Regions from separate parts of the Homo sapiens genome. Here region 2 is linked to region 1. A link means that fine-mapping ties the variant in region 1 to the plasma level of a protein whose gene starts in the linked region. Region 1 holds a variant in brackets. A gene starts in the other region. All regions are shown on their forward strands.

The links. PIP is the chance, under the fine-mapping model, that this variant and not a neighbour inherited with it causes the effect. Protein levels are from antibody-based Olink assays in UK Biobank. Linkage for the fine-mapping came from a reference panel and not from the study's own genotypes, which makes the PIPs less certain.
Region 2: LTBR starts here. The variant in region 1 is fine-mapped to the plasma level of the LTBR protein (UK Biobank, PIP 0.99).

Annotation. Positions count from the first base shown.
Region 1 is chr19:806,762-809,261 of GRCh38, forward strand. It overlaps PTBP1 (polypyrimidine tract binding protein 1), which reads left to right. Exons shown (of 15, transcript NM_002819.5): 11 at 1,108-1,141; 12 at 1,599-1,691; 13 at 1,785-2,001. Among named protein-coding and RNA genes, the nearest start is that of MIR4745, 3.1 kb to the left of the region's middle. The variant G/C (reference allele first, on the strand shown) is at 681.
Region 2 is chr12:6,381,877-6,384,376 of GRCh38, forward strand. LTBR (lymphotoxin beta receptor) reads left to right here and starts at 2,286. Exons shown (of 10, transcript NM_002342.3): 1 at 2,286-2,500. The coding sequence starts at 2,483. RefSeq lists an enhancer at 1,339-2,204.

The sequences.
Region 1 (2,500 bases):
TTTTCTCTTGCATGATACGCAGAATGAATTATTTTTTGGTTACCCAAAGGCAATCTAAAAATTACTTGGAGCTGAGCAGGGCGCGCAGTTCAGAGCCCCAGCAGGCCGCCCTGCTGGTCAGCGGGACACACAGGGTTAGCGCGGCGGGGTGTGGGCAGCCCCTGTGGCTCGAGAGCCTGTCACTTAACTGGTGGATCCGTTATTTCCCAGAATGGTTAAATTCCCCTCGGGGAGAGCTTGGGTGAAACAAGAGGCCCAAAATATGTAACTCTTGATGGATGGGATCCTCCTGGAATCAGCATTTCAGGCTGTTCTGTTTCCCGGCAACTCCTGTGACTTCCTCAAGGCGGTGCCCAGCCTGGCCCTCCCTCGCGGGGGCCCAGGACGCACTCCCTGCCTGTGCCTCTTACCACGAGCCGGGTGCTGTCCCTCCAGCTCCTCCTGAGCGAGGCCGTGCACTAACAGACTCGATCTCCCTTCACGCCTGTAATCGTCCTTAGAGACTGACTTGTGCCACAGCTGCGGGAGACAGCGCTGCTGCAGGGCTTGGCTGAGGTGGCCGCGAGCGGAGCTGCACGCGCGCTCCTGGGGGGCGTGGTTGGGATCGGCTTCTGGGAGCCCCTCCAGCAGCGCTGTCTCTGCCGGCATGTGAGTGAAGGTGCTTCTCTTACCGTGTGCCC[G/C]TCGAGGTAAACCTGTAACTGGAATGTGTGTGGAGTGTGACTGATAGAACACTACCTGATTCTTATGTATTTACTGACCTGTGTTTTTTTGCTACTTTTTTTCTTTTCTCCCCTTCCCCTTTCCCTATTTTTTTTCTTGCCCTGATCCGGAATTTCTTTGCCAACTGACTGCACGGTACTTCTGCTTCCTGTTGTTGCTTGAAACAAAACAAAAACATAAACAAATAAAAAACAAAAATTCCCCCTCAAACCCTGCTCTCCGGAAACCAACCTGCCCTTGAATATTAACATCCTGACAACTTCATCATCCATCAACCACTGCACGCCTGCGGGGACTGTCTTCCTCGTGTGGACGATTGGCAACTCGCCCCCCTTGACCTCTCCCTCTCCCCTGTCCCTCCGCTGCCTTGCTCTGCTGTCTCTAAAGAGAGTCACACCCCAAAGCCTCTTTATTCTTTTCGGTATGTTATCGTTCACACTTTTATTACCTTGTTTTCATTAATTGAGATGATTTTGATGCCCTGAGACGTATTATGAGTTTGCGGTTTGGCACTCTGATGCTCCGTGGCATCCGCCTCGTTTTATGGTTTGCTTTCGGTTTGCGAATTTTATTTGGTCCCGTAGATACGTACGCATGGTTTATCGCCCTGCATGCTTTTCAGAGTTAGACCTGTCGGTGGCATATGCCACCGTGGCCACCCGCTGGCAGCTTACCTGTCCTGGATGCTATGACTTTGCTGAACGGAGCTGCTCCTGTTAGCGCGCCCTGTGGCTGCGAGACGCAGCTCCGCAGTGGCCGATAAAGCAAACCCGGCCGGGCTGAGCCGGGCCTTGTGGGGGTGCGCGGGGCCGGGGCTGACGGGGAGATGGGCGGGGCAGGCAGCAGGAGACTCAGGCCCCATCCCTGGGCTTTTGAAGGCGTCTACGGTGACGTGCAGCGCGTGAAGATCCTGTTCAATAAGAAGGAGAACGCCCTAGTGCAGATGGCGGACGGCAACCAGGCCCAGCTGGGTAAGAGGCCGGGGCGGCCCCGGGGTGGAGGGGGCAGGGGCGGGGGCTGCGTTCCCTCTCGGGCGCCTGGTCACGCGGGTGCTGCTCCCCCAGCCATGAGCCACCTGAACGGGCACAAGCTGCACGGGAAGCCCATCCGCATCACGCTCTCGAAGCACCAGAACGTGCAGCTGCCCCGCGAGGGCCAGGAGGACCAGGGCCTGACCAAGGACTACGGCAACTCACCCCTGCACCGCTTCAAGAAGCCGGGCTCCAAGAACTTCCAGAACATATTCCCGCCCTCGGCCACGCTGCACCTCTCCAACATCCCGTGAGTGCTGGGCCGGGGGGCTCATGGGGCCGGGGGCGGGCAAGGGCTCTGCTTGGCTGTCCTACCGCGTCGGTGTGTGGACTTCTGGCGTTTCCAGAGTGCAGGTCGGGCACCTCTTACCCCAAACCTGAAGTACTGCAAGGCCTGGAGCTTGAGCCGAGGGCTGCTCAAGGGAGGGGGTCGTTGGACACTTTGGAGGTTTTGGCTCAGGGGATGCTCCCTGTGAGAATGTATAATGCACACATTTATTTATTTATATTTTTTGAGGCGAAGTCTTGCTTTGTCACCCAGGCTGGAGTACAGTGGAACGATCTCGGTTCACTGCAACCTCCGCCTCTTGGGTTCAAGTGATTGTGCCACCTCAGCTTCCCGAGTAGCTGGGACTGTAGGCACCCACAACCACACCTGGCTAATTTTTGTATTTTTAGTAGAGACGGGGTTTCACCATATTGGCCAGGCTGATCTTGATCTCCTGACCTTGTGATCCGCCTGCTTCGGC
Region 2 (2,500 bases), not on the chromosome of region 1:
GCAGAGAATTGTTTGAACCTGGGAGGCAGAGGTTGTAGTGAGCCGAGATTGCACCACTGCACTCCAGCCTGGGCGACAAAGCGAGACTCTGTATGGAAAGGAAAAGAGAAAAGAAGAGAAGAGAAGAGGTGTTCTGGACCAGTTGGGGGATATGCAAGAATACACAAAAGTGAAGACTCTCTGAGCTGTATCTGTAAGATCAGTGTACCTTACGGTTTCATTGTATTATATGTTACACCTCTATTAAAAGAAAGGGTCTCAGCAGCATAAGACAGGGTGGGGAAAAAAAGAAAAATAGAATAGAGAAAGAGTCCCTGTCTTTTAGGGTAAAATCCTGAAATATTTTCAAATGAAATGATATGATGTCTGGGATTTACTTCAAAATAATAATGAGGGATTTGAAGAGTGTGTGCGTTGGTGGGGGAGGGGGTATACAGAATAAATGAAACTGACAGTGAGTTGAAGCTGGGTAAGGAGTATATGGGAGACTCCCAATATTACTTTTTCTCTTTTGGTATATTATCTTGCATGTGGAATTTCCACAGTAAAAAGTAAAAAGAAGAGAGAGAAAAAAGGACCTAGGGTCGCTACACACACATTCCTTTACGCGTTTAAGAGCTCAGCAGGGACTCTCATCCCAGCCCCCAGCGCTAGGGCCCTGGAAGGCTCAGCAGCCCCGCGCAGTGCATGCTGTTCTGATACTTCTGCCCTTTCCAGCCATCTTTGGCCCATCTGTACGGTGAGCTGCCTGCACCAGGTGAGGGGAGAGAGCCTCACAGAGTGAAATGCCTACAGCCTAGGCAGGTCCTTTCCCCCTTTTGTGACCTCTCCTCCCCATGCACACTTCCCATCACCTGCACCTGTCCAGACATCAGACCTGAAGTTAGACAGACCAGTGTAAGGACGAGTGCTGAACAGAGTCCTTCAGGGAGGGGGATAGTGCCCAAGTGACCTATCTCAAGAGAGGTTAGCCCCTCATCCCAAGGGAGACATCCCTGAGCCACAAGGAGTTGGCAGGACTGCTGGAATGAGTTGGGACCTAGACATCAGGAGACCCAGATTGTAGCTGGCTCTGCGGTGGACTGGCTCTGTGATGTGGCCATCACTCATTTATTCCATAAATACCTATTGGGCACATGGTATGTGCCAGACTCTGCTAAGCATGGGGAACACAGACTTGAAGATTCAGCCTGGGCCATGGTGGCACTCACAGCCTGGTGGGAAGCAAACAAGACAGCCAGGTACAGAGGGCAGTCTTCACGGGGACTGTGCAACCTAGGGCAGAGGTTGCCTTCCAGAGCCTCAGTGAAGCCTCAAGGACAGGTGGGAGTTAGGAAGACGGAAACTTGGGGACCAGAGAACCACGTGTAAAAGGGGGCAGCTGCAAGTAACTCCACGGGTGGGTGGGGTGTTGGGTTGAGGGAGATGGGAGGATGAAACAGGGCAGGAACGAGACCAGGCCACCCTGGAATCCCGGTTCCCTTATGTATCACCCTTAGCCTCCCTCTCCATGCTTAAGGTGAGGGGGCTGGACTGCGTGGGCTCTCAGCTTTCTCCAGTTCTAAGGGGTTTGAAGGTTCATGGGCAAAGAAGCCAGAGCAGAGGGACTGAGTGCCCAGGTCCAGCCTGCTGGCCCCAGGACTCCCCTCCGCATATCCTCCCCCTCTCTTTGGGAGGGAGGTTCCCTGAGGACAGGGAGCAGGGCAAGCTGCACAGCTCTCAAGGGTCTCCTAGGTGACCTGTGCCCACTCCTGTGCGGATTGGGCTGGGTTGGTAGCGTGGGGGGCTGGCTGATTTGCTAGTCCCTTGTAATTTGTCTGAAAAACTCCCACAGTAGGGCAGGACAACGGGGGAGGAACCCGGGCATCTGCCAGCCGGTTCTCCTCGGTCTCAGAGCTGCTTCTGCGGCCTTGCAGTCCCCGCGCCCTGCCCTCTCCATGACTGCCCGTCCTGGGCCCCTCGCTTTCCAGATCCCGCACCCAGCTGTCCCTTGCGCTCTCTGGAACTCCCTCTGCTCTCCCTGCGAGGCTTGTCCAAGGGCTGACCCCGGGCCCGCCGCCCTTCCCTCGGCTGGGCCAGGGCTGTCCGCAGTCCGCTCTCCCGATCGGGCTTCCGAAGAAGGGAGGAGGCCGGTTCCGGCCCCGCGGCCCTCACGTGCTTTCCCGGCCGCCCCTCCCGCCCCGCATCGAGGCAGACAAGCCTGTTCCTCTTCCCTGGGCTGCGATTGCGACAGGCCGGCCTGGCTCCCAGCGCTCCCTGTCCCCGCCCCGCGGCCAGCTCGCTCCACTCCCACTTCCTGAGCTCCGCCATGGGAGCCCTGGAGGCCCGGCCTGGCCGCTCCCGGCCCTGGGGTGCACATCGGCCCTGAGTCCCGTCCCAGGCTCTGGGCTCGGGCAGCCGCCGCCACCGCTGCCCAGGACGTCGGGCCTCCTGCCTTCCTCCCAGGCCCCCACGTTGCTGGCCGCCTGGCCGAGTGGCCGCCATGCTCCTGCCTTGGGCC